4 separate regions of the Homo sapiens genome follow, and regions 1, 2 and 4 are each linked to region 3. Evidence: fine-mapped expression QTL. A gene starts in region 3. Each other region holds a variant in brackets. All regions are shown on one strand. Distances are from middle to middle. Region 1 has its middle 48 kb from the start of AKR1E2. Region 2 has its middle 28 kb from the start of AKR1E2. Region 3 holds the start of AKR1E2 (aldo-keto reductase family 1 member E2). Region 4 has its middle 23 kb from the start of LINC02561.

Region 1 (2,686 bases), 48 kb before region 3:
CAAATGGAGGTGATAATGAAAATCCAATGGCAGGAAAAAAGTTATTTCCAAAGATAGACTTTTAATGGCCCTTCAAACTTTTAGACTCTATGATTCTCAGAAGGCTGTAGAGAAAAATCTGTAAGCTATTTTTTTTTCTGTTCAGTGACATTTAGTACATATATGTATGTAAACATCTCCAAACACGGGAAGAGCAAGCAATCCAGTAGCTCCTGGACAGACTCCCATCCTCCCCTGCCAACCAGCCCCTTAACTCCCTTGAGGCTAACATGGTCTTTGTCACTGTTAGTTCAGTCACTACAGGAGCCTAAAATTCCTGGTTCCCAAATAGCTCTGTGTACACCACCTCAACATGTTTTCACTGTGCTTTCTGAAACTCCTACTCAACCACTGGCAAAACCGTTTTATCTTTGTTGTCTTCTCTAAATGTTCTTTTCACCTTTTCCCAATAGCTGAAACCCCATTTCTCTTGGTAGCACTGATTCCTGTCAGCCCTCTCCAGTTGGGGCTGTTATCCTTCCCAAGACCTTAGTAGTGCTAAGCCTGAATATTGAGTAGGAACTCTCTTTCTAAAAGCATTCAGCTCTGGACTTTGTGTCATCAGACAAACCCAGCACTACCCCTGTCCTTTGCAGTCATCAGGGCTGCATTCCCAGGTCTTCTCTCATCCACCGAAGATTTTAGTTCCTAGTTTTCATCCTCTCCAACAGTAGACCTGCCATAATTTCTTTTGATTTCAACACTACAGAGACAGTCCTTGTAATAGTCTGATCTTTCAGTTTTGTGACTTTCCTCTTCCAATGTGTTTATCCTTCAGTCTAACTCAGCCTATCAACCTAATGGTCTCATTCTAGACCTTGTCATTACGAGTTACTATAACCATGCCTGGATGTCAATTTTAAATTCTTACACTATAGTCATCACCTCCTACATGTCCCGCTCCTTCTCTACATGGCCAACTTCAACAATCCTTTGATTACCACATGAGCTATAATTCACTGACCGTACCACCTTTTCACTGTTACTTGACCCTCTAATGTGCCCTCTGTCCTTCTTTGCCTACTTAAATTATGGGGTCAATCAATATACCAACATCCTTGTAAATACCCTCAACCCTTGCCATTTCTTCTAATGTTCTTTGCTGGTTTCTCTGCATTAGCTTGACCTCTCAGTTTTGGAGTGACTTAGAGCTCAACCTAGACCTCTTCTCCTTTCTCTATCTACTTTAACATCATTGTTGATTTCATCTAGTCTCATGCTTCAAATATCATCTAAATATAGATTCCCCAAATCATATCCAGCCCAGTTCAAGGCTCTGGAGCAAGGTTTGTATATGTGTCTACTTGCCTCTACTTGGATATCTACTATGCATCTCCAACTTATCATGTCTGTAACTGGGCTCATACTGGTATCTGCAATCCCTTCCCCAATACACACAGACACACAGACACACACACACACACACACACACACACACACACACCCCACACTCATACCGATATCTTTATGATAAAGTAACTGGCTCCTGGTAGTGCTCCCTCTTCTGTACTTCAGC[A/C]CCAGGCATAGTAGCCACAGTGAACAGGTTAAAAAGGGTGTACACAGGAACTCCTCAATATGTGGGAGACTGCCATCTCACTCAGAGTTGAGACCAAATTCCTTACACAGACCTACAAGGGCCAATAGACACTCCCTCCCTTAACTCTCTGTGTCCCTGTCCTGCTATTCTCCCCACTCTTGACTCCAATGGAGCACCAGTGACCTCCATGCTGTTCCTGACTGTATTAGTCCATTTTCACACTGCTGATAAAGACATACTCAAGACTGGGTAATTTACAAAAGAAGAGAGGTTTAATGGACTTACAGTTCCAAGTGTCTGGGGAAGCCTCACAATCATGACAGAAGGCAAGGAGAAACAAGTCGCGTCTTACATGGATGGCAGCAGGCAAAAAGAGAGCCTGTGTAGAGAAACTCCTGTTGTTAAAACCATCAGATCTCGTGAGACTCATTCACTATCACAAGAACAGCGCAGGAAAAACCCACCCTCATAATTCAACCACCTCCCACTGGGTTCCTCCGACGACACATGGGAATTGTGGGAGTTACAATTCAAGATGAGATTTGGGTGGGGACACAGCCAAACCACATCACTGACATATGTCAGGCCTGTCTTAGGGCCTTTCCACTGGCCATTCCCCCTGCCTAGAAATCTCTTTCCCCATAGAGCAGGATTGCTCACTCCTTTACATCCTTCAGGTCTTCACTCATATATCACTCGATGATGCCTTCTCTGTCACTTATCTAAAAATGCAACTCGTCCTAGAAGAGCCTTTCTCTCTATTCTGATTTATTTTTGTGCTTGACACATATCCCTAACTTACACACCATATATTTTACTAGTTTATTTAGCTTATTTTATCTTTACCACATTAGAGTGTTAGATTCTAAGGGCAGGGTTTTTGTTTTGTTTTTGTTCTTAAACTAGTCTCTCCCTGGGTACTCAATACATATTGGTTGAATAAATAACATAATAAAATGAGAAACAGGGTAGGGGTAACAGAGAGTGGAGATGCAGGCAGGAACCCCTAACAATAAATATCAGTAATATTAATCAACAATAACTATTCAATGACTTGGCATTTTCTATGTCAAAAATTATTACTTCATATACAGAAAGAATTTGTATCCC
Region 2 (2,686 bases), 28 kb before region 3:
AAGTTTATAACTGACACGTCTGCTTGGCCATCTTGAACAGCAGGTGTATAGCTGTCCTAAGCCCATATTCTATTCTAAGATACTCCTCCTTATGACAGAACAATACAGAAAGACACACAAAGCACATCAGATTTGCCCCAACTTATGACTAGCCTCACAAATCCTTTTTTCCATTAATCAACACTTTACAAAGAAGAGAAGATAAACAGTTATTTTTACCATTCATTCAACCCATTTGCAGGGATGGTGAAGCACTGCCTGAGGCAGGGTGGGAAAGGCAAGGTGCTCAGGGAGGACAGAGAAAGACCCACCCAAAGGCAGCTACACTGAAAAGTTCAGGTGGCAACTTGTGGTCATGAAGCGATCTTTTCCAGCAGTCCCATCAGCTCTCAAGTTTCCCTTCTTAGGGAGGAAAAAGCTCCCCATGTCCCATGATCCTGTACATGTCTAATCCTGTCACCCATAGCCATCAGCAAAGAGGGCAAGGCAGATTATTCCAAAGACAATAGCAGTTAACATCCCATAGTGCCAAACCCATTCTTAGCCGAAAGAGACTTTACCCAGAGGGGCCTCTAACCCTCCTTAGTTGGGCCTCTAACCCAAGGTCAGTCAAGTGTCCTTGCCTTTTATGAAGAGGGGCCTCTAACCTACTCTGTCTTAGGAGAGACCCTAACTCCCCTAAGTTAGGCCTGCTACCAAATCCCATTCTTTACCTGGGTATACACACCCCACTTACCCAAAGTCCGCTGATCACTGCTGTAGTCTATTTCCTTTGGGTGGGAGGTCTCCTCAGTATCAGCCCTTTTGTGGTTCATGAGAAAAATGTTACTGGACCCCACCCACCACTTACCCAAAGTTAGCCTCTGGGTCGGGGCGGGGGGTTCCTCACTATAGTCCCTTCAGTGGTCACAAGAAAGATGTTACAGCAAAGGGTCTGGAAGAAGACCCCAAGAGAGGGTTCTTAGATCTCGCACGAGTGAATTCAGGGCAAGTCCACAGAGTAAAGTGAAAGCAAGTTTATTAAGAAAGTAAAGGAGTAGGCCAGGTGCGGTGGCTCATGCCTATAATCCCAGCACTTTGGGAGGCCAAGGTGGGCAGATCATGAGGTCAGGAGTTAAAGACCAGCCTGGTCAATATGGTGAAACCCCATCTCTACTAGAAATACAAAAATTAGCTGGATGTGGTGGCATGCACCTGTAGTCCCAGATACTCGGGAGGCTGAGGCAGAAGAATCACTTGAACCCGGGAGGTGGAGTTTGCAGTGAGTTGAGATAGTGCCACT[A/G]TACTCCAGCCTTGGCAGCAGAGCATGACTCTGTCTAAAAAAAAAAAAAAAAAAAAAAAAAAACAGTAAAGGAGTAAAAGAATGGCTACTCCATAGACAAAACAGCCCCAAGGGCTGCTGGCTGCCCAGTTTTATGGTTATTTCTTGATGATATGCTAAACAAGGAGTACATTATTTCTGCCTCCCCTTTTTAGACCCTATAGGGTAGCTCCCTGACATTGCCATGGCGCTGGTGGGAGTGTAGCATTGAGGACGACCAGAGGTCACTCTCATCGCCATCTTGGTTTTGGGGGATTTATTGCAACCTGTTTTATCAGCAAGGTCTTTATGACCTGTATTTTGTGTGACCTCCTATCTCATCCTGTGACTTAGAATGCCTTAACCATCTGGGAATGCAGCCCAATAGGTCTCAGTCTCATTTTACTCAGCCCCTATTCAAGGTGGAGTTGCTCTGATTTAAATGCCTCTGACAGTTGTCCCCACTTTCAGTTGTTCCATGTTTCCAGACCAAACCAAAGTCTATCTCACTTATACGGATTGGTGTCTTATGTCTCCCTAAAACATATAAAACTAAGCTGTAACCAGACCACAATGGGCACATGTCCTCAGGATCTCCTGAGGCTGTGTCATGGGTCATGGTTCTCATATTTGGCTTAGAATCAATCTCTTCAGATATTTTACAGAGTTTGGTTTTTTTTTTTTTTTTGGCAACAAGTTCCTCATTGCAATATTGCAATTAACCTTAAACAAACTACTGTGTGTCCAGTCTAATGTATCAAAGAAATACAATTATCTGAAAAAGCTCTAAATATGCCTCCTTTTTCCAACTACTAATTTATGAGGCTGGGGTTTTTTCATGAAGTTTAGCCAAGACATTTTGATTGAATGCAGACTCAGATATGAAATCTACAAAGCCAGACTTATTAAATAAGTTTGCAAACATATAAAACAACGCCAATCTTGTAAATATTTTTCTTTTGCCTTGGGGAATATATTATGAGAGTTTGGCTCTGGTTACTATATGCTACAATAGTTTTTAGGGGCTTACTTTCCCCATTGCTTTGTAAATGATTCTAACTCCTAATTGAATTCAATTTCTTTGTTTCTTCTAGTAACATCTATCCCACTCTGATCATTTCCTGAGGTTTCCTAAATGTTCTTTTGTCTTAAGACATAGCCCCACAACCTCTTTTATCTCTTCAGCTTTAAAATATCCCTCAAGGTCACAGACACACACAGAAGGAAGACCATGTGAGGACACAGAAGGAAAAGTCCTGGAGAGAGGCCTCAGAAGAAACCAAATCTGTTAACACCTTGACCCTAGACTTCTAGCCTCTAAAACTGTGAGAAAATGGATTTCTGCCGTGTAAGCCAAAAAAAAGAATAAAATATTTTTAGAACAAA
Region 3 (2,686 bases):
AAGACGCTGGGGGCTGGGGGAGGTGAGGAAGGAGGGAATGGGGAGTTGCTGATCAAAGGGTACAAAGTTTCAAACACACAGGAGACACAGCTTTTAAGACTTACTGCGCACTAGGATGCCAACAGTCAACAATAATTTACTACACATGTGTATTTCAAAATAACAAGACATTTCAAACATCTTACCACAAACAATAATAACTGAGAGAGGTGATAGATATGTTAATTAGCTTGATTTAACCACATTGCAATTGTATACACGGCTCAAAACATTACGCTGCACCCCATAAATGCACAGAGCGATTATATGTCTCAGGCATCAGGGCAGGTTGCTTCTAAACAGGGAACAACATGAGATCCCAAAGTTTCTTTTAAAGCCTAATCAGCAATTCCAATTTTCCTTTTTTCTTTTTTTTTTTTTTTTTTCCAGCAAGGTCTGGCTCTGTCCCCAAGGCTGGAGTGCAGTGGCGCCATCAAAGCTCACTGCAGCATCGACTTCCTGGTCTCCAGTGATCCTCCCACCTCAGCCTCCTGAGTAGCTGGGACCACAGGCGCGCACCCCCAAGCCCAGCTGATTTGTTCATTTTTTGTAGAAACAGGGTTTCGCCATGTTGACCTGGCTGGTCTTGAACTCCTGAGCTCAGGCGATCCTACTGCCTCGGCCTCCCAAAGTGCTGGGATTACAAGCCCGCACCCCACGCCCGGCCCCAACTTTTCTTTCTCTCTTTGCTGGAGAGGAGGCTTCGAGGTTCCCTGTTCCGGCCGAGTCCAGCGCCGCCAAGGCCTCCCCTCGGCATCCCCGCTCCAGTTCTGAGTAACTTCAAGGGCTCCGCCTCTCCACAGAGCAGCCCCGCCCAACGCCGCGGCCGCAGCCCCAGAGTCTGAGGCTTGGCTGCCGAGGTTCCCGCTTCTCCCAGAGAGCGCCTCGGCGGGCAGCACCGACTCCGTTTTAGGAAAGGCCGGGCCGGGCTGCTTGTGGGCGGTGGGCGGCCACCTCAGCAGCGCCTTTCCCGGGCGTCGGCCAGGCGGAGGGGAGGCCGCCGCACTTCTCCCCAGCCCCGGCCTGGGTCCCATCGGGCGCCCCCAAGTCCCGCGCTCCCCTAGGTCAGGCGCGCCTCCCTGCCCGCGACCGCGTCACCTTCCAGGAGCTGAGGCCCACGGCTGGGATATCTCCCATGGCCGCCGCCGGCCGCCCCGCCGCCCCGCCGCCCCGCACGCGACTACCGACAGGCACCGCGCGAGCTACTGCGGCGCTGGCGACCCGCCGTTGCGACTGGCTGGAAGTGCCTTGTGACGGCTGACACTCCGACAATGGCTGGAAGCATGAACGCAGGGCTTCCTGACTGGCTGCTGGTGTCGCGCGCCGGGCACTGACTGGCTGGTTGTATTAAGGACGGGCACCCCGATTGGCTGGAGGCGCAGAGCCAGCTGGAGTCCCAAATGGCTGGAAGCACCGCGCTCTGGACATCCTGATTGGCTGGCGGCATAGACGACGGAATTTTCGATTGGCTTGCAGAGCCACGCAGGAGCAGGGAAGGTTTTACAATCGGCTGGCATTGCCGCTCACGCCCCCACCTTAGGTGTGACCTCCTGGTTGCCTTCTCCCTCGCACCGGGTGCATATGCGACTGAGGGTAGGGCAGAGGTGCTAGGTTGATGGGCAGAGAGTCTTCACCGTTCCAGGGCCTCGCCATGGCCGGGCCATCCTAGGGCAAGCTCTAGGGTCAGGGTGCAGAGTCCTGCGTCCCCTGGGGCACAGGGTGCGCGGGAGTGGGTCCCCGCTCTCTTGTACCAAGGATGGCCATTCTCAGGTGCCCCGAGGCCCCCAGTCTGGGAGAAGCGTGCCTGGCCTTGGTTCCCCGTCAGGGAGCCACTGTGCCCTTGGAAAATGCCTTCCACTCCCTGGGTCCTGGCCCAGAGCGGCTGGGGCTTGCAGGACAGCGGGGGTCCTGGGTGGTGCAGGGGAGGCCGAGCCCTGCATGTAGAGGGGAGCGTCCTTGCTTGCAGCCTCGGGCCCCCGTTTGGAAGTGGATGGGGTGGACTGGACACCCCCCTTATGAGTGGACTGGGCTCCCCCAGGGCCAGTGGAGGGAAAGAGGGGTCAAGGGAGCCTTCCGACGCCCCTCTTATCTCTCCTGGAGCTTACAGCTCCCCCTTCATTGCCCCCCTCAGCCCTGGGAGTCCTACTGCCTTGAGGACACCCACACCCAGATGAGGGCTTTGTTTCTAGGTTCCTTGCCTGGGTCTTCAGTGCTGGCCATCAGGGGAGGCGCTGCCCATTCTGCTCAATGGGGCGGCTGCAGCCAGAGAAACTCCCAGGGTCACTCTGGGTGTCCCCCTGCCTCCCACCCAACTTGCATCTCCTGTGAGCATCCATCTCCTCAATGTGAGCTCCTCACAGGTGGGAAGGGGGATCTTCGATACTCTCATTTATTCATTCAGAAACTGTGCCTGGAGCACTCACCTGTGCACGGGGCAAGTTAGGCCAGGGTGCAGTGCTGAAAATGACCTGCATGGGCCTTGCCCTCAGGAGCTCACCATCTGTAGGAATGAATGGACAGAGCATAAAAGCAAATGCATGAGAAAAAAAAAGAGCAGGTGCTATAGTAAAATAAAGCAGGTGCTTGTGGTGAGAGGCGGAAGGGACAGAGTGAGGGAATCCTCAACACCTCAATGAAGTGGCATTTA
Region 4 (2,686 bases), 470 kb before region 3:
CTAGTTTCAAGGAAGGCTGTTGTTTTAGTCCCAGCCCAAGGGAACATGTGAAGATATAGCCTCACAAAATTGAATGTGGAACTCTTGGACTTATTCTTACATGCCTGATTTAAAAAAAAATACTAGGGGCCGGGCGCGGTGGCTCACGCCTGTAATCCCAGCACCTTGGGAGGCTGAGGTGGGCGGATCATGAGATCAGGAGATCGAGACCATCCTGGCTAACACAGTGAAACCCCGTCTTTACTAAAAATACAAAAAAATTAGCCGGGTGTGGTGGCGGGCGCCTGTAGTCCCACCCAGCTACTCGGGAGGCTGAGGCAGGAGAATGGCGTGAACCCAGGAGGCGGAGCTTGCAGTGAGCCGAGATCGCGCCACTGCACTCCAGCCTGGGCGACAGAGCGAGACTCTGTCTCAAACAAACAAACAAACAAACAAACAAAACCTAGGAACAGTTGCACATAAAAGATACTCAGTAAATATTTCTGGAACTGAATTTCAGGTAGGCTATTTAGCCCCACCTATTAATCCTAACCTCTGGCAAAGGTGGCTTTAATCTTGTGAATGCTTAAGAAGCCTTAATGAGATTTAAGAAATTTTCCCAGGAACAAATAAGTTTTTCGTGTTATCCCCCTCAGTGAACACTGCGACACTTACATAACCCAGCATTCCTGCCCCATCAGCCTGAACTACAGAAGAAGGCGGTATTTCATTAACATCCCGTTGAGGATGCGGGGCCAGGGTCAGCCTGATTGACTGACACTCCTGTCTGCTCAGTGCCCCTCCTCCTCCCTCTCCTGCTCTGCTGTAGCCCAGGAGAGCGGCCTCTTCTGCCCTGGGTGCTGCCCTCTCTGCCTGCTGCCTTCCAGCTGGACTTGGCCACTGTGAGGCGCTGCTGAGAGCAGAAAGGGAAGCTGGAGTCCAGGTGCCTTTCTTCCCTTCTCTAGGGGACACAGCAGCAGCTTCCATCCCTCCAGTCGTCCTGGCTGCCTCCCTCAGGCCCTCCATGGCTGCTGCTTCTTCCAGGGACCCCGGGCTCTGCCTCCAGCACTGCTACCTCTGTTTCTCTAGC[C/G]TAGGAGGGTAGCGACTTCCTGTGTTTAAAAGCCTCTGGGTTGCTTTATTGTTTCCTGACTGGCTTCTTTGTAGATACTCCAACCGTCTGATTACACATCCTGTTTAAATAAGCAGCATGGATTTTTATATCCTGGTTCATGACTGATGCTGTTACCTCAAGATGCCCCTGGTGTTCTGAACCTCCTCAGGGCTGCCACCCTGCACCTGTCCACAAGCGGCCACGCGTGAACTCCCCCTGTGGCCACCATGCTGGCCTCCTGTGCTGCTGTGTTCTCTGACTAGAGCATTTGTCACTCAGCTGGGCATAGCTGTACTCTGCTGAGGAAGGCCCTGCTGTTAGTCCCAGCCCTGAGGGGAGGGATGACGAATGCTTTGCTGCTCTGTTTGAGTGCAACATGGGCCTCTCAATTTCCCACTGCAAAAAACAGTGTTGGACGCAATCTTTCATAAGGATTTAGAGATAGTTTGCAGATCACAGAAAATAAGAACAGAGCACAGAAAAACTTAAAAAAAAAAAAAACCCCACTGTGCCTATGCTTAGAACTCAATTTCATTCATTCCGCAAATATTTATTGAGCACTGACCACATACTAGGGAGCTTTTCTAGGTGTGGTGATTAGTGTTGGAGAAATCAGTCAATAAATATGAAAACATACCACAAAATAAGTGAATAATTCAGGCAATTGCTCTGGTCACAATTGTTCTGAAGGAACTAAAACTGAGGAGTAAGATGGAGAGACACAGTGGGGACTGGGGAGCTACTTTGATTAGAATGACACAGGGACAAAGACATCACCAAGAAGGTGAGACTGAAGCCAGAAACCAATGATGAGACAGAGGGGGTGATCGAGGCTCTGGAAAACCTCTGCACAGGTAGGTACGAGTCTCTATGTGATGCCCACATTTTCCTAGAGAAGAACTTGACAAGGACATGTCCATCTTGTTGCAGGGGCAGGGAGTGAGTCTCAGGAGATCTCAATTGAGTCTGTACCTTTGCTTGGGATGCAGGACCTGGGAGAGGTAGCCCAGAGCAGCATGAAGGCCTTGGCTGGGGTGGGGCAGGCCTGGGAGTGAGGGGCAGTGAGCAGCCCCAGAACACTATGACCCTGCTGCTATGGCCTCCCTTTGCCCTGTGCAATGAATGGAATCTTTACATCCCCACCAAAGTCGTATATGAAGCCTTAACCCCCAAGGTGATGCTATTTGGTGGTGGGTCCTGTGGAGGTGATTAGGTCGTGAGGGTGGAACCCTCATGAATGGGATTAGAGCCCCTCTTAGTCCATTTATTGTTGCTATAAAGGAGGACTTGAAGCTGGGTAATTTATAGAGAAAAGAAGTTTATTCAGCTCACAGTTCTGCTGGCTGGAAGTTTCAGGACTGGGCTTCTGGTGAGGGCCTCAGGCTGCTTCCAAGTGTGGAAGAAGGTGAAGGGGAGCTGGTGTGTGCGGAGATCGTGTGGTGAGACAGGAAGCAGGAAGGAGGGGAGGGGCCAGGTTCTTTTTAACAACTAGCTCTCATGGGAACTAATAGAGTAAGACCTTACCCCCCTCCCCTGGGAGGGCATTCATCTCTTCATGAGGCGTCTACCCCATGGCCCCCAAGCCTCCCATTAGAC

What was found. PIP is the estimated chance that this variant, and not a neighbour inherited with it, causes the effect.
Region 1: its variant is fine-mapped to the expression of AKR1E2 in whole blood (TOPMed, PIP above 0.99).
Region 2: its variant is fine-mapped to the expression of AKR1E2 in whole blood (INTERVAL, PIP above 0.99).
Region 4: its variant is fine-mapped to the expression of AKR1E2 in whole blood (TOPMed, PIP 0.94).

What each region holds. Positions count from the first base shown.
Region 1 is chr10:4,872,483-4,875,168 of GRCh38, reverse strand. It overlaps a transcript of AKR1E2 not described here and the pseudogene AKR1C6P. Among named protein-coding and RNA genes, the nearest start is that of AKR1E2, 48 kb to the right of the region's middle. The variant A/C (reference allele first, on the strand shown) is at 1,556.
Region 2 is chr10:4,852,745-4,855,430 of GRCh38, reverse strand. It overlaps a transcript of AKR1E2 not described here. Among named protein-coding and RNA genes, the nearest start is that of AKR1E2, 28 kb to the right of the region's middle. The variant A/G (reference allele first, on the strand shown) is at 1,283.
Region 3 is chr10:4,824,815-4,827,500 of GRCh38, reverse strand. It overlaps AKR1E2 (aldo-keto reductase family 1 member E2), which reads right to left and starts at 1,294. Exons shown (of 10, transcript NM_001040177.3): 1 at 1,138-1,294. The coding sequence starts at 1,176. RefSeq lists a silencer at 788-867.
Region 4 is chr10:5,292,471-5,295,156 of GRCh38, reverse strand. No RefSeq gene overlaps it. Among named protein-coding and RNA genes, the nearest start is that of LINC02561, 23 kb to the right of the region's middle. The variant C/G (reference allele first, on the strand shown) is at 1,070.